Linked DNA regions of Homo sapiens: all the other regions are linked to region 3. Evidence: fine-mapped expression QTL. A gene starts in region 3. Each other region holds a variant in brackets. All regions are shown on one strand. Distances are between the middles of the regions.

The links. PIP is the estimated chance that this variant, and not a neighbour inherited with it, causes the effect.
Region 1: its variant is fine-mapped to the expression of PMM2 in subcutaneous fat (GTEx, PIP 0.92).
Region 2: its variant is fine-mapped to the expression of PMM2 in whole blood (TOPMed, PIP above 0.99).
Region 4: its variant is fine-mapped to the expression of PMM2 in whole blood (INTERVAL, PIP above 0.99).
Region 5: its variant is fine-mapped to the expression of PMM2 in whole blood (INTERVAL, PIP 0.97).
Region 6: its variant is fine-mapped to the expression of PMM2 in whole blood (TOPMed, PIP above 0.99).

Annotation. Positions count from the first base shown.
Region 1 is chr16:8,844,964-8,849,978 of GRCh38, forward strand. It overlaps PMM2 (phosphomannomutase 2), which reads left to right. Exons shown (of 8, transcript NM_000303.3): 8 at 2,761-4,362. The coding sequence ends at 2,862. LOC100130283 (a long non-coding RNA gene) reads left to right here and starts at 4,506. Exons shown (of 5, transcript NR_147908.1): 1 at 4,506-4,692; 2 at 4,886-5,015. RefSeq lists an enhancer at 1,527-2,118. The variant C/A (reference allele first, on the strand shown) is at 3,114.
Region 2 is chr16:8,837,705-8,842,719 of GRCh38, forward strand. All of the region lies in intron 7 of PMM2 (phosphomannomutase 2), which reads left to right. Among named protein-coding and RNA genes, the nearest start is that of CARHSP1, 29 kb to the right of the region's middle. The variant C/G (reference allele first, on the strand shown) is at 2,691.
Region 3 is chr16:8,795,695-8,800,709 of GRCh38, forward strand. PMM2 (phosphomannomutase 2) reads left to right here and starts at 2,145. Exons shown (of 8, transcript NM_000303.3): 1 at 2,145-2,254. The coding sequence starts at 2,189. It overlaps TMEM186 (transmembrane protein 186), which reads right to left and starts at 1,945. Exons shown (of 2, transcript NM_015421.4): 1 at 1,918-1,945; 2 at 1-896. The coding sequence starts at 1,920. The coding sequence ends at 258. RefSeq lists enhancers at 1,539-2,233, 1,872-1,921, 2,234-2,928 and a silencer at 3,784-3,833.
Region 4 is chr16:8,825,537-8,830,551 of GRCh38, forward strand. The region is part of intron 7 of PMM2 (phosphomannomutase 2); the gene reads left to right. Among named protein-coding and RNA genes, the nearest start is that of PMM2, 30 kb to the left of the region's middle. RefSeq lists an enhancer at 3,942-4,543. The variant CATATATATAT/C (reference allele first, on the strand shown) is at 2,183.
Region 5 is chr16:8,857,709-8,862,723 of GRCh38, forward strand. CARHSP1 (calcium regulated heat stable protein 1) reads right to left here. Exons shown (of 4, transcript NM_014316.4): 2 at 1,463-1,627; 3 at 642-764. The coding sequence starts at 1,620. LOC100130283 (a long non-coding RNA gene) reads left to right here. Exons shown (of 5, transcript NR_147908.1): 5 at 2,420-2,709. Among named protein-coding and RNA genes, the nearest start is that of CARHSP1, 8.8 kb to the right of the region's middle. RefSeq lists an enhancer at 2,208-2,922. The variant C/T (reference allele first, on the strand shown) is at 2,281.
Region 6 is chr16:8,850,566-8,854,967 of GRCh38, forward strand. It overlaps CARHSP1 (calcium regulated heat stable protein 1), which reads right to left. Exons shown (of 4, transcript NM_014316.4): 4 at 2,382-4,402. It overlaps LOC100130283 (a long non-coding RNA gene), which reads left to right. Exons shown (of 5, transcript NR_147908.1): 3 at 368-485. Among named protein-coding and RNA genes, the nearest start is that of CARHSP1, 16 kb to the right of the region's middle. The variant C/T (reference allele first, on the strand shown) is at 2,849.

The sequences.
Region 1 (5,015 bases), 49 kb after region 3:
GAGCAGGAGGATAGGGGATTGATCTCCCAAGGGAGGTCTCCCGATCTGAGTCACGGCACCAAATTTCATGCGCGTCCATGTGAAGAGACCACCAAACAGGCTTTGTGTGAGCAACATGGCTGTTTATTTCACCTGGGTGCAGGCGGGCTGAGTCCGAAAAGAGAGTCGGCAAAGGGTGGTGGATTATCATTAGTTCTTATGGGTTTTGGGATAGGCGGTGAAGTTAAGAGCAATGTTTTGCGGGCAGGGGTGGATCTCACAAAGTACATCCTCAAGAGTGGGGAGAATTTCAAAGAACCTTCTTAAGGGTGGGGGAGATTACAAAGTACATTGATCAGTTCGGGTGGGGCAGAAACAAATCACAATGGTGGAATGTCATCAGTTAAGGCTATTTTTACTTCTTTTGTGGATCTTTAGTTACTTCAGGCCATCTGGATGTACACGTGTAAGTCATAGGGGATGCGATGGCTTGGCTTGGGCTCAGAGGCCTGACAGTAGGTGTTCTAGAAAGGTGTGTTGTGTTAATGTGTGAATACTGACTCCCCTCCTCAGTCACTGAGGCGGGGAGGGTGTTTGGCTCTTTTGAGGCATGTGAGAGTTGGTTGTGCCTTTGGTTTTTTGTTTGTTTTTTTTTCTTTTGAGTCTCGCTCTGTTGCCCAGGCTGAAGTACAGTGGTCTGTTCTTGGCTCACTGCAATCTCCGCCTCCCAGGTTCAAGTGATTCTCCTGCCAAGCAGCTGGGATTACAGGTGCGCACCACCACACCCAGCTAGGTTGTGCCTTTGTTAGGTTCTCTGTGACTTTTACCCACTGTGCCATTCCTGAAAGAAATCTTTTTTTTTTTTTTTTTAATTAGAAGAATTACTGGAACTAGCTTGGCACTGTTGGACACAGTCTTTGTCTCAGCTACTCGAGAGGCTGAGGCAGGAGGTTCGCTCGAGCCCAGCCTGGGCAACATAGCAAGACCCTATGTCCGAAGGAAAAAAAAGGCAAAATCAGAATTACCAGAACTGATTTCACATGTGTAGGTAGCAGATGGTGGCCATGCAATTCAGGTCTGTCTGAAGGCCCCCAGGCCTGGTACAAAACTGTGTAAGGCCAGTACAAGGCCCTGACAGGTTCCCAAGTGGCTGGACTGGAAGAGATGCCAAGTTCATGGCCTCCTAACCTGACTCCACCCAGCACTCCCTGGGCCCAGCGACGTTCCCTCCTGAAGCCTGAAATTCACCTCCACCTGAGGAGGCCATCTGCCTGGGGATAGGTTCTTGCAAAAATGAAAACACTCATTTCCAGAGGCAATTAATTCTTTTAAAGGATGTCAGATTTTTGGTACAAAATCATGGTTTCCACGTTGGCTTCATGCTCGGTGCTTTATGAGAAAAATCCCTTTTTTCTACGGTTGTGTTCATTGTATTGTAAAGCAATCGTAGATTATTTTAAGGTTTTGAGTTAGAGTGATTATCCAATTTTATGAGGGAAATAAAGGAATTCCATGAGAAAAACGGGGGCTTTCCTGCAGGGCTCGGGGTTGCGGGAGCGGCAGATAACCTGATTCATTAACGTGAGCCCAGTGGGATTGGTGGGGGTGATGGGGACACAGATGGGAGCACTCAACTCAGGCACAGGACCCCAGCAGAACATGCCCAGGTCCTCCTAGACATGGGCCCTTGCAGACTTTCTGAGGCCTCGGTTTCGTCATCTTACCAAGGTGTGACCCCAACCATCATCTCCTGAACTTCTGGCCACAGAGCTGTGAGCAAGCTTCCATCATGACCCCATTTTGGAGATGGGGAGTTGGCGCAGCCACACTGCTGCTCAGTGGTAGAACCAGCATCTGACCCAGGCCACCTGTTCCAGAGACCCTGCTTTTAGCCAGCAGCTCAGACCCCAGTCATGTGGGGCCATTTATTTATTTATTTAAGATAGAGTCTCCCTTTGTCGCCCAGGCTGGAGTGCAGTGGTGCGATCTCGGCTTACTGCAACTTCCACCTCCCGAGTTCAAGCAATTCTCCTGCCTCAGCCTCCCGAGCAGCTGGGATTTCAGACGTGCGCCACCATGCCCAGCTAATTTTTGTATTTTAAGTAGAAATGGAGTTTTGCTGTGTTAGCCAGGTTGGTCTCAAATTCCTGACCTCAAGTGATCCACCCTTCTCAGCCTCCCAAAGTGCTGGGATTACAGGCATGAGCCACCATGCCCGGCCCACGTGGGGCTGTTTAAATTAAAATCAAATTAACTGAGTTCCTCCATTGCATTGGCCACGTTTCAAGTGTGCAGAGTGACACATGGCCAGTGGCTGCCATCACCGCTGATGTCGCCACGTCCCTCATCACAGGAATATCCCTGGCAGCCCTGCTCCCGGCCCTCTGCCCTCCTGACGCTCCCTTGTGACTTGTTAGAAAAGCGTAGGTACAGCTAAAAAAAAAAAAAAAACTGATGGCTGTGAGAATACTGTCACTCGCTGATGCCTTCTGTGTAGAAAAATAAGCCTTAGACAGATCTTCGCAAGAACATCGTGATGGCTCTCATAGGCATAATTACGTGTTCCAAGCCAAATTGCAGTTCAAGAGAAGGTTATAAATCTCTTCTTAATAACAATTGTACTCACGTTCCTCTCCTGGAAACTAAGAGGAAGGTAGCTGAAGAAACTCTCCCTGCCCAGTTAAATCTTGTTTTTTGGGTACTTTTGGACTCCAGGGTCACATCAGCAATGGCCCGGGACAGACGAGGGGGAGCCTTCATCTGTACTTCGTGTCTTTCCAGGGTGGCAATGACCATGAGATCTTCACAGACCCCAGAACCATGGGCTACTCCGTGACAGCGCCTGAGGACACGCGCAGGATCTGTGAACTGCTGTTCTCCTAACGTGGGAGCGGGAGGGGCGGGGTCCCGGCTGACAAGCCAGCATAGGGCATTCGGTGGCCAGAGCCGAGGGTCCTCCCACACGTGCTCACCCACCCGCAGCCTAGGCAGGCTCTGCATGCTATGCCAGGCATGTGCAGTCTGGACTTCCACCTCCAGTGCCAGAAACTTCCAGAAGGAAGGAGAAAACTCTTGTCAAGAATGGCCCAGAGGAATGCCTCGCACAAAAGGTCTTCCCCACCCACCCCCAGCCC[C/A]CTAGTCTAATACCCACCCTGATACGTGCAATCATGTAGTTTTGGCGGAAATTTCCCCATCATTCTAGGATGATACAGAAAGAAAAACTGTGCCTGGACCCTCCCTCTTGGTGGGTCTGTGGAAACATAAGCGGTTTTTTTAATGGGCCCCTGCATCAATACCAAACATGGGGGTTTGGTAATGAGAAACCAGGACAGGCCATCTGCAGTGACCCAGCCCAGGACGAAGTTTACAAACACCTCCTGGAACGAAGCTCCCGCCTGCATGTCACCTTGATGGGGGCTGTGAGTGGGGCAGTGTGATACCCAGTGACTAGACGCACTCTGCGTTTTCCCGTGTTTGGGGCTGAGGCCTGCTGGACAGATGGCTGGCCAAGTGGGAGCAGACCCTAGGGAGTTTGCACCTCGGCTGGGCCGGATTCGGACCGGCTCTGTGTTCACTACACTCAGAATAGCCTGGCTGCTTCTCTGTCTCCGAGACCGGAGGTAGTGGGAACCAACAGCTGGGCTGGAGAGTTGGTGCTGGCAAAACAGTCCTTGCCCTGGGGCCGGTTCTTACCCAGGTCCAGAGAAACCAACGCGGGATGTCAGACTTCACCAAAAGGACTTTCTGGTTGCCCCTGGCTGGCTTCCTGGAGGCGTTCGCCTCTAGTTTCTCAGGGATGGAGCGAGAGCCCAGCCAGAGAACAGTAAGAGGAGCTGCTCTCCTATCTGCACTCACCCAGGCCTTCACCCAGACTTTACCACGGAGGCGGCTGAGTGCAGCTACAGCTAGGTCCGCGTCCCTCACTCTTTTCATCTTCTGCACGTTCTTCGTGAAACTGGAAGGATCCCGGGTCTCAGCTAGAACACGGTGGAAGAGAACTTTCCTAGGAAACGGTTCATGTGTCACTTTTCAGGATGTGGAAACACTGAGCCATACACCCTCCATTGCTTGGTGCTGGGGTTGTGTGGCCTCCACTGGGCACTTGCCGACCTGAGTCTGGGGCCAGGGGAGCCCAGGCTGCCCTGCACTCCTGCCTCCCAGCCCACAGCCAGGTGCTTTCATCACAGCTAAACCTGGTTCCCTCCAAACCTCCCAGCCACTCGGGCTTGTAACTGTCTGAGCCCCGGATCCGGTGGGGTGAAAGCAGCCAGCTCATCCCAGTGACTCACAGGACACAGCCATCCAGCGGCATCTTTCCTTGTCGAATGATACTGTAATGACCTTCCAAAGTGAAGAGTAGCACATTAAAGTGATTTTATTGTTTCCTGTTTCTCATTCCGATTTCTTTTTCCTCCTATGTTCCCAGATTCTGGAATGGAACCCCAGCCCTTCCAGGTCTGAGAGCCACTCTTTCTTTACTCTGGATTTCTGTCACATCGGGGGCCCCTCCCTCTGCGGAGTTGCATGTTGCTGTTCCTGATGCACAGACTCCTCCCCCGCTGCTTTTCTGCCCACTGGGTCAGGATCTGCCATTCTTTACAAGTTTCCTTAACGTATTGCGTCAAAGCGAGACAACCGAGTCTTACTCAAACTTGTTTTAACCGGAGATGGAGGGTTGCTGCTGTGTCACCGCCTGCACAGGGCTGCCCTCAGGTGAGTACCCCGAGTCTGCCAGGCTGGGTGCTGATGCGCGGAGGTTTGGGCCGTCCCTGCCCCAGTTCCCACAGTGGCTGCTTGAGACCCTCCCCAGGCCCCTCGAGCCCCTCCTGCACTGTCTGCTGCCTCCCTTCTGCAGTCAGAATTGACACTCCCCTTCCACCTTCTTTGTCATCACATTGCATCCCAGGCCAGCTTCCTGGGGCTTACTCCAAGGGCATCGGCTTGCCCCGCACTGTGGTGGGATGTAAAGTGATAACAGCTAAACGACGCATGCACAACATGTCCTGGTGCCTTCTGCGTGACCCCAGAGCAGCAGG
Region 2 (5,015 bases), 42 kb after region 3:
AGAAGGGGTTGGTGTACTTGCCTCTCCGCCAGAAAAGTGGGACTTGCCGCTAAGGGTGAAGGACCAAGGCAGGCGTCCCTGCATGGTCTGACACCTTTGAAACGTGGGTAAATAATCAGGCGTCCCTGCAGTGATTAAACACCAAGGGAAGGCTGCCTTCCCAGTCTCTGACCGGCGCCGGAGTTTTGAGTCCACAGATAAAATGTGTCTCCTTTGTCTCTACCAGAAAATGAAAGGAATTGAAATTAAGGGAGAGATTGAAGTGTTTCATGCGCGTCCGTGTGAAGAGACCACCAAACAGGCTTTGTGTGAGCAACATGGCTGTTTATTTCACCTGGGTGCAGGCGGGCTGAGTCCGAAAAGAGAGTCAGCAAAGGGTGGTGGATTATCATTAGTTCTTATGGGTTTTGGGATAGGCGGTGAAGTTAAGAGCAATGTTTTGTGGGCAGGAGTGGATCTCACAAAGTACATTCTCAAGAGTGGGGAGAATTACAAAGAACCTTCTTAAGGGTGGGGGAGATTACAAAGTACATTGATCAGTTCGGGTGGGGCAGAAACAAATCACAATGGTGGAATGTCATCAGCTAAGGCTATTTTTACTTCTTTTGTGGATCTTCATTTACTTCAGGCCATCTGGATGTATACGTGCAAGTCATAGGGGATGCGATGGCTTGGCTTGGGCTCAGAGGCCTGACATTCCTGCCTTCTTATGTTAATAAGAAAAATAAAATAGTGTTGAAGTATTGGGGCGGTGAAAATTTTTGGGGGGTGGTATGGAGACAGAATGGGCGATGTTTCTCAGGGCTGCTTCAAGCGGGATTAGGGGCGGCGTGGGAACCTAGAGTGGGAGAGATTAAGCTGAAGGGAGGTCTTGTGGTAAGGGGTGATATTGTGGGGATGTTAGAAGAAACATTTGTTGTATAGAATGATTGGTGATGGTCTGGATACAGTTTTGGATGAATTGAGAAACTAAACAGAAGATCCAAGGTCCAAATAAAAGAAGGAGAAAAATGGGTATTAAAGGACTAAGAATTGGGAGGACCTAGGACATCCAATTAGAGAGTGCGTAAGGGGGTTCAGCGTAATTACTTGCTTGGTTGGCAAGTTTTTGGGCTCTATGCTTGAGTTTTTTTATGTTGTCATACATCAGGCCAGATTGATTTAGGTAAAAACAACACTCTTCATTTAAGAATATGCAGAGTCCTCTTTTTTCAACAGTGAGTAAGCAAGGCCTCGGTGGTTTTGGAGGACAACTGCAGCTAAAGAGTCAACTTGGGCCTGGAGGACTGATAAAGTTTGTGACATGTCTGTGATGCTAGCAGAGAAGTCATTAGACAGGCTACGGAAGGTCATGACAGAGGTTGAAATGCCTGCTATTCCAGTACCGAGAGCAATAGTGGAGGCAGAAAGTCCTAAACCGACCATCAAGGGAATTAGTGGAATGACTCTTCTTTGTTGTGTCGGTGTCATGAGGGGAACAGGGAGCTCTTCGTTCCTATTTGCAAATTGAATTTTGGGAGTAAGGAAGACTAGTGTGCATGTGCCTGTCCAATTAGCAGGTAGACACATGTTAGGTAAAGGATCCACAGAGGAAGAAGAGACCTTGTGCGAGGCAAAACTGGAGATGTAAAGTAAAAAGATGAGGAGTGCTGCAAGGGGTGTCTTGTACCTAGAGTCCTAGGGATCCAGCTAGGGCGGCAGCTGTCAGAGGTTGTAATGGGGACTGATGGGGTAACTGCATAGAGGGGGAGGTTCGATTTTCATGGTGTATGAGAAAACGTTGAGTATCTACAAGCAACCTTTCACTATTATTTTCGGGGCTGGGTAAAAGTAAACAAGAGGAGGGCCTGGGAGGAAGAGTCTGATGAGCAAGGGGAAAGTAGCCAAGGATGGAGTGAAATACAGGGCAAGTGTCTTCCTAAGCAATAATTACTGCTAATGTTTTTAAGTTTGTCAGTATTGATAGCGGGCTTGTCTGTAATATGGAGCTGGAAGGCTCCCATTGTTTGAGTGATGTGTGTAGTTGGACTTTGGAGATGAAGAGTAAAGGAACATCGAGAAGGTGAAAGATTACCTAGGGGAATTCCAGTGGGTCTTTGCCGAGAGATACATATAGGAGCGGCCACAGGCATAGTAGTTTGTGTTGTGAGAGGTCCGAATATGGGGGGAGAAAGGAGAAAGGAGAAAGGTTTTTTAAATAAGTGTGAAGGAGGGCGGCAGCTTGCTGATGTGAAATGTCTGGGGAAGTCTTGCTGGACCTGTCTAGAAAGTAAATGAGTTCTTCAGGAGGGTAAAGGTGAGGGCTGTTACAGGAAGTTCGGAGGTGTAGGGAGATGGGAGATGTTGCCCAGTCTGTCTGTAAGGTGGGGACAGCTGTGTAGGCACTGGAAGAAAGGGAAATGCAAAGCCAGCAGTTGTTCACTAAGGAGGGATTAGAAGCGGCTAGGAGAGAATGGGTAAGGTTGATAGTGTGGTGGAGATAGCTGGGGAGAGGTAGAGGGTGGCATAAGAATGGGAATGAGAATAAGAGTGAGTATAAAAGTAAAGAATAGAACTTCATCAGGGTGGAAATATTGGAGGGTGCCTTGCCAGCAAAGATCATCTATCCACTCTAAGAGGGAGTTAAGAGTGGCAGTTTGGGGATAGCACCAAGAGATATCAGCTGTGATGGCTTGAAGAAACAGTGTAAA[C/G]CGGCCGTGTAAACAAGAGTAGGGCATTTATAAGTAGTTGAGAATGGAGAATAGGAGTATGACCAGACAGAAGATAGTAGGGATGACTAGTTTTTTGGGGCTCGGCCTAAGTGGTGGGGGTGACTTCGTAAAGCCCTGTTGCAAAAAGTAGGGTAAGGACGAAAAACCTAATAGAATGAAGGGATGTATTAGGCTCATAAGGGTTATGACTGTTCTTCGAAATACGACTGAGTTTAAGGGAAGTAGGGGAGAGTACTTGCAACTTCCAGGAGGAAGAGGAGGGATTAGGCTGGCTGTCCGATGGACACAGCTTTATTCTGGAACGGTGAGCCTAGTGGGGAGGATCCTGCAGGCGGACAGCAGTCGGGGTACTATAGATGACTAAGTAGGGTCCGGTCCATCGAGGTTGTAGAGTTTGAGGAGTCAGATTAACAAGAACTGATCGTCCAGCTAGGGTGTCTTCATATGGCTGGGGATCTGGAGTAGGCAAGAGAAGCTTAGCAGCCTGGCGAATTTCCTGTCTAGCCTGCTGGAGGACTGGAAGACAGTCGCCTAGAGGGCTGGTGTCTGGGATGAGGTTGGGGCCAAGCAAGAAAGTGCGTCCATATAAAAGTTCAAATGGACTGTACCTACCCTGTAGCATCTCGAGAACAGGCTCTAATTCTGAGAAGAGCAAGAAGTAAAAGTACTGTCCAATCCTTTTTAAGTTGGAGGCTGAGCTTGGTGATGTGTACCTTTAAAAGACCATTAGTCCGTTCTACCTTTCCTGAAGATTGAGGACTGTAAGGGATATGAAGGTTCCACTGAATACTAAGAGCCTGAGAAACTGCTTGGGTGATTTGACTAGTAAAGGCTGGTCCGTTATCAGACTGTATAGAGGTGGGAAGGCTAAACTGAGGAATTATGTCTGACAGAAGGGAAGAAATGACTGCGGTGGCCTTCTCAGACCCTGTAGGAAAGGCCTCTACTTATCTAGTGAAAGTGTCTACTTAGACTAAGAGGTATTTTAGTTATCTGACTCGGGGCATGTTGAGTGAAGCTAATTTGCCAGTCCTGGGTGGGGGCAAATCTTCAAGCTTGATGTGTAGGGAAGGGAAGGGGCCTGAATAATCCCTGAGGAGTAGTAGAATAGCAGATGGAACACTGAGAAGTTATTTCCTTGAGGATAGATTTCCACGATGGAAAGGAAATGAGAGGTTCTAAGAGGCGGGCTAGTGGCTTGTACTATAGCATAGCCTGCCTTTGCTGCTATGTGGCGATTAGGCCTGGTGGAACCGCCATCAATAAATCAAGCGTGATCAGGGTGAGGAACAGGAAAGAAGGAAATATGGGGAAATGGGGTGAATGTCAGGTGGATCAGAGAAACACAGTCATGGGGGTCAGGTGTGGTATCAGGAATAATGTGGGAGGCCAGATTGAGGTCCGGGCCAGGAACAATGGTAATTGTGGGACTTAACAAAGAGTGAGTACAGCTGAAGGAGCCGGGGAGCAGAAAGTATATGCATCAGGTATGAGGAAGAAAATGGATTTTGGAAGTTATGAGAAATGTAGAGAGTGAGTTGAGCATAGTTTGTGATTTTTACGGCCTCTAAAAGTATTAAAGCAGCGGCAGCCGCTGCACGCAGACATGAGGGCTAGGCTAAAACAGTAAGGTCAAGTTGTTTGGACAGAAAGGCTACAGGGTGTGGTCCTGGCTGTTGTGTAAGAATTCTGACCGCACTAACCATGCCTAGGAAGGAAGGGAGTTGTTGTTTTGGAAGGGATTGAGGTTTGGGAGATTAATCAGACAAGATCAACAGGCAGAGCACGTGTGTTTTTATGAGAATTATGCCGAGATAGGTAACAGATGAGGATGAAATTTGAGCTTTGGAGGGGGATACCTGATATCCTTTGGAGAGTAAATGCTGAAGGAGCAGAAGTGTGTCTTGTTGAGAAGATTCAAAGGAGGGGCTACAAAGAAGAAGGTCATCAATATATTAAATAAGGTGAGAAGCGGAGGGGTGGAAAGAAAGTAGATCATGAGAAAGAGCTTGGCTGAAGTAATGAGGGCTGTCCCTGAAACCTTGTGGCAGCACAGCCCAGGTAAGCTGCTGGGACTGATGGGTGTCAGGGTCAGTCCAGGTGAAAGCAAAGAGAGGCTGGGACAAGGGGTGCAGGGGAACGCTGAAAGAAGCATCTTTAAGATCAAGTGTGGAATAGTGAGTTGTGGAGGAAGGTATTGAGGATGAAAGAGTGTATGGGTTGGGCACCACAGGGTGGATAGGCAAAACAATTTGGTTGATAAGGCGCAGATCCTGAACTAATCTGTAAGACTTGTCCGGTTTC
Region 3 (5,015 bases):
GCTCTTAACAAAAACTTCTGGCCATTATCTGACTGAATGTCACAAACAAGTGCTGTAAGAACTTGCTTAGAGCCTTTTTCCTAAACCTGTACACCAGCTCTTGCCTTGTGAATTTATTCACCACAAAACACATGTTCCCAGGGGCCCAGGCAAAGTCTCCAAGTACCCAGTCCCCTTTCTTCAGCCTTGCCCACACCCTCAGCCTTCCTGTTAATCCAGGCGACCCAGGGTTACCCAGAGGTCCAGGTCCCAGTTGTTCACTTGAGCATCTGATGTACCCCAAACACCTGTGTGAAACGCTCTCTGTCCAGGATGCGTCCATAGCGCAGGGTGACGTAGAAGGTCTGTTTCCCACTGTACCGCTGGATACGCACAAACATCTCCTGAGGCCGGTCCTTGGTTTCTGTCAGGGGAATCACATCTGCCATGGGACAGTATGTGTCCTGCCGCCAGCCCCAGAAGTTCAGATGGGCCACCCGCAGCATGGTGCCAGACTCATTCAGATACAGGATACCAACCAGTCTCCGTAAGAAATAGCTCATCCAGCACAGCATGGTCAGGGCAAAGCCCGATATCCCACTCATGAGGCACACGGTGTTGAGAGTGAGGAGGCCCTGGGAGTACAAGTAATAGCCTGGTGGCAAAGCTACCACTGTCAGGGCAGTCTGTGCCAACTTCAGTCGTGACAGGAACCCGAAGGTTCTGATGGCATCAAAACGGTAAAACATCCAGAATTTCTCAGTCTCTGCGTTTGGTAGTTTCTCCTTCGAGATGGGTGAACTGCTGCCCACCCACCTCTTAGGATCCTCCTGCCCACTGCAGCACCACAGCCCATGGAGAGGCCTTTCCCACACAGCTTTTCCCCGAAACCTACGCACAGCTCGGAGAAGGGCAGCCTGAAAGGGAGACAGTAGACCATTTCTCTCATGGAACTCAACCACATTAATCACACGGTGAACATCTGCAAAGCACCATACTCTAAGGCTTCTGCCAATCCTGCAAGGTAACCGTTATTGCCAGACGAGGGAAGGGTAAAGCCAGATGCTATCTCATGTGGGCATCACAACAGCTATCTAAGATAGTTATCACTATTTCCACTTTACCACTAGGGAAACTAAGCCCAGAGAGGGTAAGATATTTACCAAAGATCACACAGTCAGTGAGTGCAGCAGAGTCCTCCTTCCACCAGGCAATTCCAAATAAATACAGGAAAGGAGGTGCGGCCGTCATTAATTCAAAACATATCCAGGGAGGACAAACTCTGGGCTGGACAATGTATCCACAAGGGGGTGTGAACATTTCCCCAAGCAGGAAACTAAATAATCAGTGTCTTAGTGGGGAACTCGAGCAACAAATCTGTGAGATATTTATTCCAATAAACTTTCTAATTCTCTGTTTGATTCATATGCTATCTTGGGTGCTGGAGGGAACTGCTGCTTTCTCTTAGCCTAGTCTGGGGAAGGGGAAACAGCGGAGAAGGAGAAGGAGCGAGGCAGGGAGGCCCCAACACGTAGCACAAGGGTATTACTAGGTGGGTAGTGAAGCAGTAAAAGCTCTTATTCCAATTCTGGCTCCAACAGTAATTTGTGAGCAAATTACTCCACACCCCTGAGATTCGGTTTCTTCGCCTTTCAAAATGGGGACTCAGAACACAGTGAACCAGAGGATGGTTTCAGAGTCCTCAACTTAGTACCTAATGCACTGTGAGAGCTCGGCGAGTTTTAGCTACTACTACTGTGCGCATGTGACCCAAGGAGGGCAAGAGAAAGCCCGGGAAAAGCGAACTGTAACACACGCCAGAGCTTCCTCCCACGGATCCTCGGAGTCCGAAACCCGAGCGTCGGGCCTGCCCGCCCCAGCCCTGACCCCGACCCCAAAGAGCATCACCCCCTCAAGGCTCGCCACCCGCCTCCTTACCATGGCCCCACCACCTGCTGCCGGAAGTAAATCCCACCGGCCCCCGGAACCCCTAAGAGCGCATGCTCGAATGTACAAGGCGGGCGTGATCTGCGTTGCACCCTGGGAGTTGCGGTCCAGGAATCGTGGCTGCCGCTACTCCCAGGCGTTATGGGAACGGAGTCCCCTCCTCTTCCCGACGTGCCCTGCGACTCAGCGGCCGAACCCGGAAGTTCCGGGCCGAGTTCCTCGTGCCAACGTGTCTTGTAAGGTGCGGCTAGAAACTGGGGACATGGCAGCGCCTGGCCCAGCGCTCTGCCTCTTCGACGTGGATGGGACCCTCACCGCCCCGCGGCAGGTAAGTGGCGGCCGGCGGGCTGCTGGCAGCCGACGCGGAGCCCGTGCTGTTCCCAGTTGGGGCTATCGACCACCCAGGGTAGGCGCCAAGGGGTGGCTAAGGACCGCCTACGTCCTCACGGCGCTGAACCCTATTCTGGGTGCACTGGAGGAATGAGAGGGAGGCCCTAACCAGCTCTTGAAGAGCTCTGGTGCTTGGAAAGATGAGACGGGGCTGAAGAACTCTTAAGAGCAGGAAACTTGTGCTAGGTTGGAAAATGTAATCTGGACTCACCGCTAGTGCTCGGGACTGATAGACCAGGATTTCAACCCAAGATCAGGCCCCCTTATCAGCTATGTGTCGGCCCCAATCCTGTAACCAATGGGCTGTGCCGTGAGTCATGATATTAAAAACAGGTTTCCAGGTCAAACCGACCTAGTGGAGTCTCATCTTCACCTCTTGACATCTGTGTGACCTTCAGCGAGTCATTAACCTCTCTGAGCCTCAACATCTACAGCTTTAAATGGGGATGTTACCTGTTCCATATGGTGTCTGTGAGGATCAAATGAGATTGTGTAAGTTCTTGAAAGTATGTTGGACACAACACACTAGGCCTCAGTAAATAGTAGCCACCTCCACCACACCCATCTCCAGCCCCTGCAATGGACTAGGGAGATGGAGGAGCCCTAGGTTATTACAGGCTGCCCGCTGAGAGCCTCTTTGGGCCCTTGGAAACTTGCTTTCCACTTTCAGATTTTGCTGCTACAGGCACAGATAAGTTTCAGTTACGATCAGCCTTGAGGTGAGGCTCTCCTGGCCCCTTTTCAGAAATTGGCCACTGAACACTGGCCATTTCAACTTGAGACTGGACCCCAATGGTCTCACTATCCTCAGCTTCTACCCTCACCCCTCATAGTTTTCGCTTGGTGGTAACAATGGTGTGCTCCAGAAGTCCAGGTCAAATGCGTGTGACCTTAGACGTATCATTTTGCCCTTCTCAGCCACAGGTTTGATTTACCTAGTGATGACGCTCAACTCCCAAGTTCTTCAAAGGCTTTTTCTGATTCTGAAATTCAGTGATCACACACTTGGGTTTGTTAAAAGCCCATAGTGGTCTAAAACTCCGGTCCCCAATTCATTTTTTGTAAAGGGCCATATAGCAAATACTTCTCTGTCTTTGCTGACTATGTGGTCTATAGTAACCACTCAACTTTAGTGCAAAACCAGCCATAAACCCTATATAAATAAGAGTGGCTGTGTACCAATAAAATTTTATTTATTTATTACAAAAACAAACAGCTGCCCAATGTGGTCTGTGGGCCATAGTGGTCTAGGGTTTACATTGCCACCCTTTTTCATATCACTGAACCCTCTCAACCTTCCTCCATCTTTCTTCCCAGGTAGGATAGTTGTTATTACCGTTTTAAACATAAGGAAACACACTCAGTGAAGAACTAACCTCCTCAGTTTCACACAGCCAACCTGGTACAAGTCTCTGGGCCTCAGGATATTGGTTCCTGTCAAGTTTGCCATTTCCTATCTGTGCTAAGGTGGAAGCTGTTCTAGTCACTGGGTATGCCATTCAGGAAAGTGCTTCTGATTTTCTGATTTTCACAGTTCTGACTCTTTTTTTTTTTTTAAGACAGAGTCTCACTCTGTCACCAGACTGGAGTGTAGTGGCCCAATCTCAGTTCACTGCAACCTCCACCTCCCAGGTTCAAGCAATTCTCCTGCCTCAGGCAACCAAGTAGCTGGTGCTACAGGCAGGCACCACCACGCCTGGCTAATTTTTGTATTTTTAGTAGAGATGGGGTTTCACTGTGTTGGCCAGGATGGTCTCTATCTCTGGACCTCGTGATCCACCCGCCTCGGCCTCCCAAAGTGCTGGGATTACAGGCGTGAGCCACCGTGTTCTGACTTTTAAAGGCCACTCCTCCAATTCTAGATTCTGTCTAATAGGTCCAGATTCCACTGTGAGAGTAGAAAAGATTGCACTCTATTACAAACCCTTCTGTACAATTTTAATCACATTCATGTATTACTCTAAAAAAGTTTTTTAAAGAAAAATCATTGAACTCCAAGTGTTTATATACTGAGGTTGAATTAAATGGTTTTTTGTATTTTCTAAATTTCTAGTAAAAAGATATTCAGCCGGGCACGGTAGTTCATGCCTATAATCCCAGCACTTGGGGAGGCTGAGGCGGGTGGATCACTTGAGGTCAGGAGTTCGAGACCAGCCTTGCCAACATGGTGAAACCCAGTCTCTACTAAAAATACAAAAAGATTAGCCGAGCATGATGGCGGGCGCCTGTAATCCTGGCTACCTGGGAGGCTGAGACAGGAGAATCGCTTGAACCCAGGAAGTGGAGGTTGCAATGAGCCGAGACCACACCATTGCACTCCAGCCTGGGTGACAGAGCACGACTTCGTGTCAAAAAAAAAAAAAAAAAGACATTCAGTGTAAATGTACAACTGAGATTGCTCAAAGTGCTGAGTTATAAGACTTGTAAAAATACATTGTGATGTGTCTTAATGTAGGGCTATTTTTTCATCTTAGTTTATAACTTTTTTAAAATTATCACACAGTTTGGAATTTACCATAAGATTATACCACTAAGACCACTCTTTCTAGATAGGAGCTTTGCTTTTAGAAGAGACTAAAAAATCTAGTTATCTTACTCTTTTACATTTTTGTTTTGTTTTGGGTGATTGCAATAAAATCAATTCTAAGCTTCTCCTTTTTTTTTTTTTTTTGTTTTGTTTTGTTTTGTTTTGAGACGAA
Region 4 (5,015 bases), 30 kb after region 3:
TCTTGAACTCCTGACCCCACGTGATCGCCCACCTCAGCCTCCCAAAGCGCTGGGATTACAGTTGTGAGCCACCACTCCTAGCCAAAGCTAGTTTTTAATAAAATTTTACAAACAAATGTATCCGATTTTAGTTTGACTGTAGGGTAACATTTTCGTAAACCTTTTATATAACCCTTTATAATTGTTTGTTAACAAATCAGTGTTCAAAAATAAAACACTATTTTTTTTTTTTTTTTTGAGATGGAGTCTTGCTCCATTGCCCAGGCTGGAGTGCAGTGGCACATTCTCAGCTCACTGCAACCTCTGCCTCTCAGGTTCAAGCAATTCTTCTGCCTCAACCTCCCGAGTAGCTGGGACTACAGGCGTGTGCCACCACGCCCGGCTAATTTTTGTATTTTTAGTAGAGACAGGATTTCACCATATGGGCCAGGCTGGTTTCGAACTTCTGACCTCGTGATCTGCCTGCGTCGGCCTTCCAAAGTGCTAGGATTACAGGCATGTGCCACCGCATCTGGCATAAAACCCTATTATTTTGATATATGGGCCCAGATTCTGGCCCTGCATCAGTATGCTTTTAATATTTAATTTATGGAAAAAATTAAATAATACCCTTTCGATTTTAGCCAGCTTGCTCACACACAGAGTTGTTCACAAAGTTAATTTTTCACAAACCTACAATTTGCTTAAACTTTCAGTTTTATTTTGTCTTTCAACCAAAAATAATCTTTAAACTCTCTAAATTAGAGAAGATTTTCTCTTTTAAAAAAACCCATATTCCCATGTCTTTAAGCAGTTTTAATTACATACCAAGTGCAGAGCCTAGAATACAGGACAGAACTGCAGATAAAGTCTGACTCTCTCTGGCCTAGCTAGGAGTCATGGCTACCTCCATATGTCCCCAGGCCTTATCTGGAATCTAATGGCTCTAAAGTAGGTAAATTGAACAATTACAAAAGTCACAGAAGCCACTTATGACCTTAAAGCATCCAGCAGAAACAGTATCTGATCTGCCTAATTCAGACCAAATGAAGACAGTTTTATTTCATCAATAATCTTTAAAACTATCTTTATTTACCAAAGATTACTAACGTCATGTGAACTAAAATGCATTAGAGTTGCTATTTCTTTGAAAAAATATTTAAGTGCTTATTTTTTAAGCCAATTAATTACAGCTCTTAAACATCACACACACAACATTATAAATATATAGACCGAAGAAGATGCATTAGTTAAGATTTTTCATTTGCTGATTTTTTAGGGGTTTTTTTTCCCCATTTTACAAATCTTGTCACGACTCACAGAGACCATCTATGCCATGCTTGGACTGTCTGACTTGTCCTATGTGTCCCTCTTTCGTGAATAATCAGTCGTTCTATTTTAGGACAAGAATTTACCATACAAGATCTTTTCTCATATAAATTTCTTTTTTTATAATCATCCTTACCAAAAATACATCTTTATAGCCTCAACTTTTTTCACATATCTCTCTCCCCTACTAAAGTAATTCCTGATGCCCTCAAAAGTGAAAAAGGCCAAGTAATGTGATTCAAAACAGAACAGAGCCTTAGATTTTGAGAGGGGTCTGTCTGCTTACACTTCTTGGGGTTTTATGAGGAAAACAGAGTTTCTCCCAAAACAGGGTCTGTGGAGCCTTCTCTCTTTTTCCCAAGGAGTCCCCAGCTGTCAGAAAGTACCTTAGGTCCTCTCATGTGGGCATTCAGAGTGGCAGGAAGACAGACTGGGGAAATAATTCAGTTGACTGAGAAGAAAGACAAACAAAAACTCATTCCTCGAAGAAAAAAAAAAAATCCAGGAAGAGAAAAAGCACAAAGGCCTTTTTTTTATTTTTTTATTTTTATTTTTATTTTTTTTTGAAATGGAGTCTTGCTCTGTCACCCAGGCTAGATAGAGTGCAATGGCATGATCTAAGCTCACTGCAGCCTCTGCCTCCCGGGTTCAAGTGATTCTCGTGCCTCAGCCTCCCGAGTAGCTGGGACCACAGGCACACGCCACCAGGCCTGGCTAATTTTTGTATTTTTAGTAGAGACAGGGTTTCACTATGTTGGCCAGGCTGGTCTTGAACTCCTGACCTCAAGTGATCCCCCTGCCTCAGCCTCTCAAAGTGCTGGGATTACAGGCATGAGCCACTGCACCCAGCCCACAAAGGCCTTTTAAATGTGTG[CATATATATAT/C]ATATATATATATATATATATATATATATATATGCACACATTTATATATATATATTTATATATATTTATACATATTTATATATTTATATAATATATATTATATATATTGTATAATATATAATATATATGTTATATATTATATATATGTTATATAATATATGATATATATGATATATATTATATATATTATGTTTTATATATAATATATATTTATAAATATATATATTTATAAATTTATATATATATATAAAACTTGGATATCCATTTTTAATTAAGCAGATTTTAACTGTAGAACTCTTTTTTTTTTTTTTTTTTTTTACAAAATCTTTTTAAATTTCTTATTACCAGACTCTAGCCAGGATAGACAGCCAGTATTTCTGGCTTTTGAACTTTACCACAGGTAACCTCCTAGCAAAATTAATAAGTCTTATCTAAGATTATGACTTAACTACAGAAGTATAAGATGTCTCAAAGGGATGGTAAGCAGTTTTTTGTTTTTTTCTTTTACAAGATTTAGAATCTCCCCAAACGTAGTTTAGAGAAAAGAAAATTTAAGGCAGATTTCAAGGCAAGCTGTCCATGGTGGGGAAAGAATCAATAAATGGCACACAAAAAAAACTTACATAAATAACAAACCAGAGAGCACCCATTCCGTAAGCTGGGAACCAGACCCAGGCTACCACTGTGAAATAGCAAAGCTTCAGCTACTGAGCTAAAGCTGAAGGCTGTTACACTGGTCTTCCTGGGAATCCAGGACTTTACTCAAGATAATTCTTAAGGCTAGACATGACACTGTCACATGTCCTCTCAGACCAGCTACCGACATGAACCCAAAAATTCATGCCCTCTGGATGCCGGAGACCAAAAGAGGGTACCCTGACATGGTCCCAAAGTCAAGTTTTTCAGGACGTAAAACAAGAGAAGAGGGAAACCTTATCTGGTTTTTGTTGGAGCAAAGTTTGGAACTGACCAGTCTGCCAGGCTGGATTGAACAGCGGGCTTAGAGGGGTCCTATGTCCACATCCTATTCTGTGGTCCTGCTCTCCATGACAGAGGATGCAGCTGTGAGTGGGTTTGGTTTGCGCTGTATCTCCAGCTACTAAAGCAATGCTTGGCAGGTAGTAGGTGTTCTAGAAAGGTGTGTCGTATTAATGTGTGAATACTGACTCCCCCTCCTAAGTCACTGAGTGAGGAGAGAGGATGTGTGATTCATCTGAGGCATGTGAGAGCTGGTTGTGCCTTTGTCTTTGTTTTTCTTTTTTCTTTTGAGATGGAGTCTCACTCTATTGCCCAGGCTGGAGTGCAGTGGTGCGATCTTAGCTCACTGCAGCCTCCACCCACCGGGTTCCAGTGATTTTCCTGCCTCAGCCTCCAGAGTAGCTGGGGATTTGTATTCACAGCACAGAGTGCACCAGATTCCCTACAGCCTAAGTCTAGGCTCATAAGATTTTTTCTATTAATCAGACCCTTGCAGAGGAGACAAACAGTGATGTTTTCCATTCATACACGGCGAGAGGGGCCAGAAGCCTGGCTGGTAAGAAATGTTTACCCTTTTTGCCTGCATGTCAGGTTTCTGGGTTCCCATTCTCTGTAGCTTCCAGAAGAACGGAGCAGCTCTTGATGACCCTGATCGCTGCACGCTAGCTGTGGGCGCCAAGTCGCATTGCAAAGGAAAACCATCCGTTTCTGTTTTATGGAACCACAGGCAAAAGCCTCTCAATTTTTCAAGATGCTGCCCAATGGGCTGCATGGGGAACTGAATTAACATTTTCCATCCTGGCCAGAGCAGAGTACACATGACAAAACTAGTCACTATGCTCAGTGCCCAGCATCAACTTGGCAAGGCTCACACTTGCTCCCGTTGGTCTCTGTCATCTTTGATCCACTCCACTCAAGGTGGGAAGGGACGCCTTCCACCGGGAATTCAAAGGATGGTCTCTGAGCCAGATGGAAGAGCGGATGGTCACCCTCGAGGCAGCCCTGTCAAACTTCCGAGCTTCTGCTGACAAGTCCTTCAGGGTTCAGTGAATGTGACCAACCAGACAAACTAGGAGAGCCTGATGGACTTCCTTCAGCAATTCCCTTAGACATCTCCTCCACATATACAAACACATACAGCAAAACACCTTCCAGAAAGAGTTTCCAGACTAAATCACAAACCAAGAGTATTCCTCCAAACAAGTCCCCTATTCTCTGTACAATTAGGGCAGATACCCCATGCTGGGGCTACAAACAGATACCACCTAATAGAGCTAGAGATGCCCCATGATGGGGCTACAGGCAGACACCCAATGATGGGGCTACAGACAGATACCCTGTGATGGGGCTACAGTTACAGGACGTCTCCCCAGGACTGTTTATTGCAGTTAAATCCATACACCATGGGTTGGCAGCACCCCATTAGTAGAGATGGTGCCAGTGTCAGCCCCCAGTCGAAGAGAACTAGGTGGCCGCCTGGGCTGGCCTCTGGATCCATCACCAGTGAGGGGGGTTGGGGAGGCTACTGAATCGCTGGAAGATAGCCACAAGGGAGATCACAGATGAGCCCCCAAATTTGTAACCCCCTCCACAGGTTCTCCTTGCCCACAGCCTAGACAGCCAATTTATCAAGACAGGAGAATTGCAATAGACTAATTCACACAGAGCCAGCTGTGCAGGAGACTGGAGTTTTATTATTACTCAAATCAGTCTCCAAGAATTTGGGGATTTGAGTTTTTAAGGATAACTTGGTGGGTAGGGGCTCTGGAGGTGTGGATTGCTGATTGGTCAGCATGGAGATGAAATCATAGGGGGTAGAAGTGAGTTTTTCTTGCTGTCTTCTGT
Region 5 (5,015 bases), 62 kb after region 3:
CCTTCCGAGGAGCCGGGATTACATGCACCTGTCACCACGCCCTGCTCATTATTTTTTTTTTTTTTTTTTTGAGATGGAGTCTTGCTCTTGTTGCCCAGGCTGGAGTGCAGTGGCGCAATCTCGGCTCATTGCAAACTCCGCCTCCCAGGTTCACACCATTCTCCTGCCTCAGCCTCCCGAGTAGCTGGGACTACAGGTGCCCGCCACCATGCCCGGCTAATTTTTTTTGTGTTTTTTTAGTAGAGACGGGATTTCACCATTAGCCAGAATGGTCTGGATCTCCTGACCTCGTGATCCACCCACCTCGGCCTCCCAAAGTGCTGGGATTACAGGCGTGAGCCACCACGCCCAGCACACACAAAACCTTACACACCCATTCACAAAGACACACCCAGGGACAATCACAAGTACCGTGTCGCCCCCAGCCTCACATCCCCCAACACAGCTCCGTAGAGTCTCACAACCCCAACCCAACACACACACAGGAGCACAGCTGGAGCACCAGCCACAGGCAGAGTCACACAGGCCCAGCCATTCGTCCTCACACCCAGCGCCCATCAGAGTCACACACCATCCCCACCTCCACAGGGCCAAGGAAGCGCCCACCCCAGCCAGGCCACCCAGACCTGCCGCTGACTCACTCAGAGATGTGCAGGAAGATGTCGGGGCCGCCATCAGCTGGAGTAATGAAGCCATGGCCCTTGGACCGGCAGAAGCATTTGCAGACTCCTTTGTAGACGGGGCCCTGTGAAGCCCGCACCGTCCTGACAGAGAGGGGGAAATGTCAGGGGCCCCATCAGCGCTCCTGGGCACACAAAGCTCATTCCAGCCCCTGCCCACAGCTGTGCCCCATCAAGCCCTGGCCAGGACCGCCATGTACAGTCACACAGGCTGAGGACTGCACAACCCTCAACCCTGGGAGCCGCTCACAAAGACGCTGGGGGAAAGGACTCTTTGGATGACCCTGGCCAATTTTCTCGGGCCTGTTTTCCCTCCTGGAAAGAGGGAGTTGAACTAAAACATCACTGAACATCCCTCCAGAAACTAATGATTTACTATTAATAACACAAGCATCCTCCACTCGCAAGGCCTGAGACCTGCATCTGCCAGGCATTATGTGGGTCCTTTGCAGCCCTGGTGCTGTGCCCATTTTGCAGCTGCAGAATTCACAGTCTCACAGGGAACCAGACTCTCATGTGTGGTTAAAGCCCAGCGATTCTGACCCCAGCAACTGCCCACCCATTGCCACTCCCAGCTGGTAACAGGTTCTTCTGGGCTGGGCAGTACCCTGAATTTACAAGGCGCCTTCCTAGTTTCTCACCCTCAGCCCACGGCCCAGCCCCAGGTCTGCCTATTTGGCAGTCCGGGACATAGGCCCAAAAATGGCCAGAGACACAGTGAATCTCTGGCCTCAGGCAAGAGATCCATCTGAGAACGCGTCCCCAGCCTGCTCCAGACTCACGCCGAGAAGGTCCTCGTCCGGCGAGTGGGCAGTGGGCTTGGGACCACGTTGCCCCGCAGAGGGGATGGTGAGCGCTCACGGCTCCGAGGGGTGTCCAGCAGCCCGACTGAAGCTTGATGGGTGGGGGGCTGTGGTGGTGGGGGAGGCTCAGATGACATGGCTGACCTGGAAAGAGAAGAGGCTGTCAGGGGCTCGTGCCTTGCAAGGTAGGGACCCTGTGCTTACCCCCATGTCCACGTCTGACAGTCCAGTATCTGAGGCTCATTCCTCTCGGGCACCTCAGCACCATTGTCACCTTGTCTGGGAGCACGCCTGGCAGGGTCAGATGCCTACTCTGGGCTCCTGAAGCAACCGTGGGGCCCCCTCGATCATAGCTCTTCATGAAAATGCCACATCCTCCCCCATGACCAGGATGGCATCGGTCCCCTCTGTGTCCCCAGCACAAGGCATGGATCCCGGCACATTTGGGACACATAGTATTTGTGGGAGGGAAGGAGGAAGGTGAGCAGAAAACCCAAAGCCAGGGGCCGGGCGCAGTGGCTCACACCTGCAATCCCAGCACTCTGGGAGGCCGAGGCAGGCGGATCACTTAATGTCAGGAGTTCGAGACTAGCCTGGCCAACATGGGGAAACCCAGTCTCTAATACGAATACAAAAATTAGCTGGGCATGGTGGCAGGCACCTGTAATCCCATCTACTTGAAGGCTGAGGCATGAGAATTGCTTGAACCTGGGAGGCGGAGGTTCCAGTGAGCTGAGATCGCACCACTGCACTCCAGCCTGGGCTACAGAGCAAGACTCTGTCTCAAAAAAGAAAAC[C/T]CAAAGCCAGGGAGATTTTAATGCCAACCACCTAGATCCAAACTCAGCCACTCCACGGACCCTCCCTGACGCTGCTGGGAGCCAGACACCACAGGGAAGCAGGGGCAAAAACTGACCCTCACGCAGTGTCCGCCTCCAGGGAACTGTGGAACACGTCGCAGAGAGCTCAAGCGCCACGTTTGGATCCCTGAGCAGCTGTCACAAGCCTGCACCCAGGACTGGGGGGCCTGCTGCGAGAGCCCAAAGGGAAAGGGAGAATTTCCAAGGCTGCATCCAGCTCCATCAGGCCCAGTGAATTTCCACACAGCCCGGGTCACCACGCTGTTATGAAATCAAATTCCTTCTGTGACCCCTAGTATGTACCGGTAAATCCAGCTGGAGGGCGGGAATTCCCTAGCTGCTGCTGTGCTTTTGACAATTTTTCAAGAGCAGGACACTCGCTGTACACAATAATCACTGAACATTGAATATGAAGGTGTCGGCTCTAACGTGGCCTCAGCTCGAGGTTCAGGGGAAAGAGAAACAGTCCAGCAGTCAGAGGCCCTTGGGTAAGTCCTTTCCCATCTCTGGGCTCAGTTTCCGAATCTGCAAAGTGGGGCAGCTGGGTGGGCATCACTTGGCACCTGCGCAGGGCTGGTGATGGGGGTACGAGATGAAGTAGGGAGAAGCCTAACTAACTCAGGACGCCACTCAACACCACACAGCCGGGAGGGACAGCAGCAGCCCTGGATCGGTTTGACTCAGGTCCCATGGGGTTTTCAAATTTAGATTTGAAGCATGGGCCAGGTGCGGTGGCTCACACCTGTAATCCCAGCACTTTGAGAGGCAGAGGCAGGTGGATCACCTGAGGTCAGGAGTTGGAGACCAGCCTGGCCAACATGGTGAAAACCAGTCTCTACTAAAAATACAAAATTAGCTGGGCGTGGTGGTGGGTGCCTGTAATCCCAGCTACTCGGGAGGCCAAAGCTGGAGAATTGCTTGAACCAGGGAGCTGTGGGTTGCAATGAGCCGAGATCACACCACAGCACTCCAGCCTGGGTGACAGAGTGAGACTCCGTCTCAAAAAAAAATAAATAACTTTTATTTTTTTGAGACAGTGTCTCACTGTCACCCAGGCTGGAGGGCAGTGGCATAATCACAGTTCACTGTAGCCTTGACCTCCATGCCTAATTTTTTTTTTTTTTTTTTTTTTTTTTTTTTTTTTTTTTTTTATAGAGACAGGGTATCACTATGTTGCCCAGGCTGATCTCAAACTCCTGGGCTCAACGGATTCTCCCACCTCTTCCTCTCAAAGTGCTAGGATTACAGGCATGAACCACCATGCCCGGCCTGAACTATCTTAAACATCCCAGGGGGTTTCCTCAAAATCCAGGTTTCCAGCTGCTCATGGAAAGAAATGAAGCTCTCACAACCTTCAACCTCAGTTTGCCCCCCCAGTCCCCTCATTTATAGGAGTCTTCAACCTACATCACCCAAAAATCCCACCGCACCCCCCGAACCGCCTTCAAGCATAGCCACCCAAGAACCAGGCCCGACTGCTCAGAGGAGAAGGGATGCCCCATCCCTGAAATGTCAGAACCCCTCCCCAGACATTGCTGCACTCTCCCGTTGGGCCTCAGTTCTGTCGGGCTGGGAAGCTGGTGGCTGGCTTGCCTTCTGGAGGAGGTGGCATCCTACCTCCTGTCCCTTCTCTCAGCTACAGCCGCGGCCAAGGAGGAACTCCTGAGTCCGGGGAGCCCCCACCTCAAAAAGGCCCCAGCTGCTGGCCTGGGGGCCAGGGCCCCCGCATGACCTACCAGCACAGGTCATAGAGTCCTAGAATGTTCAACGCCCAGAGTTCCAGGAAAGAGGCTGGCCCTGGGAGGGGAGGGCCCTGTCCAGGCCTCCCAGGACAGCAGATGGGAGCAGTGGCCTCGCAACTCCACAGTTAGAGACACTGCCCTGCCTTGTTCTATCCAAAGTCTCCCTCCCTCCTTTCTCCTGGAGTCAAGCATAGCTGACTTTTTTTTTTTTTTTTTTTTTTTTTTTTAATTTGAGATGGAGTCCTGCTGTCGCCCAGGCTGGAGTGCAATGGCACAATCTCGGCTCACTGCAACCTCCACCTTCTGGGTTCAAGTGATTCTCCTGCCTCAGCCTCCCAAGTAGCAGGGGTTACAGGTGCCCGCCATCACGCCCGGCTAATGAAGCATAGCTGACTTCTAATCCTACCCCTTGCCTGCTGTGTGGTCTTGTACAAGTTACTTAATCTCTCTGGGCCTCAGTTTCCACATCTGGAAAATGGGAATTATAATAGTCCCGATTTCACACCATCAGGCTGAACTGAAAACAAAATAATACACACTAAGCACTGGGCACACTGTCCGCCCAGGTCCAGTGAGCAGTAATTGTCAGCTACGACTGTTGTTATAATTGTCATCATAAAGGCACTCAACAGACACGTGCCCAATACCGAGCCCTGTTCAAGGCCCCAGAGACAAAGGGCTGAACTTGAAGCCAGAGAATAAACAGTTAAATAAACATAAACCAGATCATTACAGATCCCAAAAGGGCTGTAAAGAAACAGACAGAAGGGGATAGGGGGAGAAGGGTGGGAATACACACGCTAATCAGGGTGCCTGCAGGACCCTGAACAGCAAGAAAGGGGTAGCCATTTGCAAAACGGAGGGAGGCTGTTCCAGGTATAGGGAACAGCCTGTGCAAAGGCCCTGAGGGCCCGGGTGGGACTGAGGCCAGTG
Region 6 (4,402 bases), 55 kb after region 3:
GAAGGGGAGTGCCCACAGGGGCCAGGAGAAGGCAGTTGGGCAGATGTTGCCGTAGTCCGGACACATCCAGGCATACGTGGTTTTGAATCACTTCCTCTCCAAGGGCTGCTGCTTCCTCTCCACCCCTCCCAAGTGTTCTGGCTCTGGGCCCCAGCTGGCCACCTCAGCCCAGGCAGGCTCCTCCAACCTGAACGACAGGCAACCTCCACGCTGCCTGCCACGGCACCCCAAAGTCAAGACGTAGAACTCATTCCACCTCCTTCACCCGAGGCTGCTTTCCCAAACGTCTTCCCAGTCCCACCTTCAGTTTTGTTTTTTGTTGTTGTTGTTGCTATTGTTTTTGAGACAAGTCACTGTTGTTGCCCAGCCTGGAGTGCAATGGCACGATCTCAGCTCGCTGCAACCTCCGCCTCCCCGGTTCAAGCAATTCTACTGCCTCAGCCTCCCGAGTAGCTGAGATTACAGGCCCCTGCCACCATGCCCAGGTAATTTTTGTCTTTTTAGTAGAGACGGGGTTTCACCATGTTGGCCAGGCTGGCCTTGAACTCCTGACCTCAGGTGATCCACCTGCCTTGGCCTCTCAAAGTACTGGGATTACAGGCATGGGCATGAGTCACCATGCCCGGCCTTTTTTTTTGTTTTTGAGACAGAGTCTCACTCTGTTATCCAGGCTGGGGTGCAGTGGCACAATCTTGGCTCGCTGCAACCTCTGCCTCCAGGTTCAAGTGATTTTCCTGCCTCAGCCTCCCAAGTAACTGGGATTACTGGTATGCACCACCACGTGCAGCTAATTTTTGTATTTTTAGTAGAAACGGGGTTTCACTATGTTGCCTAGGCTGGTCTTGAACTCCTGACCTCAAGTGATCTGCCCACCTCGGTTACCAAAGTGCTGAAATTACAGGCGTGAGCTACCACGCCCGCTCCCCACCTTCAGCTTTTGCCAAACCCTTCCTTGGCTACCCATGTAGTACTCCATATAGTAAGTAAGTCAGCAAATCTCATTGTTTTGAGCTAAGTGCCTACGTTAGGCTCTCCCTAAACAGGTTTGATGGGCTGGTTTTTTCCCAATATGCTTTGGAAATCATTGTATAATACTGACAAGAAAAGTGTCCATCTCTGCACCACCCAAAATCACTGCCTCCCTTGGGAGACACCGGCCAGAGCAAAGCCTTCCCAACAGAGCACAGCGACCCCATAGAGTGGCCCCTGCCTGTCACTGCTCTCCTGGAAACCAAGAACAGGAGTTCTTACACCTGCCCACCTTCTGCCCTCACTCCCACTGCCCCAACAGCAAACCCTTCCTCCCCTGCTATGGACCTTGAAAAGCTCTCCGTCCTAGGACTCTGCCAGCCCCGGGCCCTCAAGCCTCATCTGCTTCCAGCCCCTGACTTCATGCCTGAAGAGCAGCAAGCTTTTTTTTTTTTTTTTTTTTTTTTTTTTGAGACTGGGTGTCACTGTCACCCAGGCTGGAGTGCAGTGGTGCATTCACAGCTCATTGCAGCCTTCACTTCCTGGGCTCCAGCAATCCTCCCACTTCAGCCTCTGGAGTAACTGGGACCACAGGCTCATGCCACCATGCCCAGCTAATTGTATTTTTGGTAGAGACCATGTTTCGCCATGATGCCCAGCTGGTCTCAAACCCCTGAGCTCAAGCCATCCACCTACCTCGGCCTCTCAAAATGCTGGGATTACAGGCGTGAGCCACTGTGCCCAGCCCTAGCAAACGTTCATCAAATGTCTATAGCAGTGGCCGGGTGCTGTGGCTCACACCTCTGGTCCCAGCACTGTGGGAGGCTGAGGCAGGAGGATGGTCTGAGTACAGGACTTCGAGACCAACTTGGGCAATGTAGCAAGTTGCTCTCTACAAAAAATTTAAAAATTAGCCAGGCATGGTGGCATATGCCTATAGTCCCAGCTACTCAGGTGGCTGAAGGAGGATCACTTGAGCCCACAAGGTTAAGGCTGCAGGGCAACAAAGCGAGACCTTGTCTCAAAAACACAAACAAAAAACACTTCTATAGCAGGAATGAGCCAGGGACTGTGGACAGTGTGCCCCGAGGCCCGTCCTCTCTTCCCACAGCTGATGGGGATGAGGTGTAACTCACACATCCTAAAAGCTTCAACAGGGCACTGGAGCGCCGCTGACCAAGTTACTGGCATTTTCTATTGCCAGGAAGCCGCATTCTCCTCTCTGCTAAGCTTTCTCATGCTAGAGAATGATGACTAAAAAACAGATGATCCCATCTTCTTATTCACCATCCCCTAAAAAAAACAGACTGCCACGTGGAATGTGTCAGCCTCACCTGGGGGAGACACCCTTATCTGACGACTTAAAAGGAAAAACTTGGTGAGCCAGCCTCCACACAAACACACGCATAGCCTTGCACAAAACAAAAATTTATTGGGAGAAAGATGGCTGATGGGAGGCAAGATCTGGATTCAGGAATCCTCAATTTTAGCTCTCGCTCTGTCACCAAAACCCTCCGTCCCTCCCAGAGCCTCGAGGAGTTTCCCCTTGTGTAAACCGGTATCGCGTCCCTTCCAGCTCTGACATCCTGCGGTTCTAGAATACCCATTGATTGAAAGAGCTGTGGCCAAACAGGAAGGACAGAGTAAGAGCCGCTGACAAAGGATTCTGCCAAGACAGAATCCCAGGGTCACAGGAGAGAGGCTTGGGGCAGTGAAAGCCCTCTCGGGTCTTGGCTGTGGAAGTGTGGACTGTACCAGCAGATGGGCCCTTGGGAAGCCAACAGGGAACAATTCAAGGCTGGAGAGAAAAGGCCACCTTTGACCCAGCAGAAGGCAGAGGCGGGAGAGGAGGGTGAGGATGTACAAGGAGCATCGCAGG[C/T]GAGGAAACAATGGCCAGGACCTAACTGTGGTGGGAACTGCCTTTGTCTCCACACACTCGCAATCAACATGCGTATTTGCTATTCTCAAACAACTCCCTTCCACCCCCTTAGGCTGAAAGGACAAACTCATCAGAGTTGAGGAGTACCTACCTGATGAAGCTGTTCATGCTTCCAGCATCAAACTGGACGTTTACTGTCTGCCCAAAAGCCAGTTTCCAAAAGGTTTGCTTGCCTCTGTTCAGTGGATTCTTGACTACATATAGGTCATATATTTCAAAAAATAATGCCTAGCTATTTCTACTTTGAAATCATGACTAAAGCCAAACCACAACCACAGCAAAGATAACCTAAGGATTTGTTTACCAGAAATACCTACAAAAAAGTTTGCAGGCCGGGCGCGATGGCTCACACTTGTAATCCCAGCACTTTGAGAGGCCGAGATGGGCAGATCATCTGAGGTCAGGGGTTCAAGACCATCCTGCCCAACATGATGAAACCTGGTCTCTACTAAAAATACAAAAATTAACCGGGTGTGGTGGCGCATGCCTGTAATCCCAGCTACTCAGGAGACTGAGGCGGAATTGCCAGAACCCTGGAGGGCAGAGGTTGCAGTAAGCTGAGATCGGGCCACTGCACTCCAGCCTGGGTGACAGAATGAGACTCAGTCTCCCACCCTGCCAAAAAGTTTGCAATGTCGGCAGCAAAGTGCAAACAGAGCCGGCTCTGGGTGAAAGCTTTAGTTATGAAAAATAAGAAAAAAAAAATCCCTAAGCATTTCTTAACACTAGTTTTAAAGAAAACCCCCTCTCCAAAGGTATGTTTCTCCTTCAACTTTCTTGACTTTGCCAGGCTGTCAGGATGCAAGCTACCTACTCTTTTCTGGATGGATCGGGACAAAGTTTTTAAACAAAGACTGTGTCCTCTCCACAAGCCCTTCCCACCACCACCACCCCAGCCCCCCGCCGCCATAATTACAGGGGCTGTGAAATGGCTGTTGAGTGATGGTCACACAACCAGAAGGCAGATGAAAAGGTCAGGCTCTAAGAGGGGTTCAGCCTCCCAGTACCAGCCTGCTGTGCCCAGGGGTGGGAGTGCTGGGAGAACTGTCTTCCCCAGACAGGCAGCTATGCCGCCTCCCACTGCAAAGGCACCAAAAGGCAACATCCGTCCAATCCAAAGACCGCCACCCCCGCCTTTCCCCACCCACTTCAAGCCAGCTCCCCTAGAACCAACCAAGCCAAGAATTAGAAAACTGCTTTGCCCAGGCCCCAGGAGAGGCGCAAGGGGCACTTAGGTGGAAATTTGCCTTGGAGAAGTCACGCAAGGTCCCTGTCAGGCTGCCAGGGGGCCAGATCTGGGAATCTGGGGCCTCCAGCTCCAGGAGGAAGAGGGATTCTGTGGGTTGAGCCCATGTGTCTGAGCAGCTGGAGAAATACCACCCTTGATCCACTCCCTGGGATGGGGTTGGAACCTCCACTCAGCCACCAGTGGGCACCTCTCCTTTTTAAATGCTTTTAATGCTCTTCAGATGGTGAGAGGTTGTTGCAATGGTC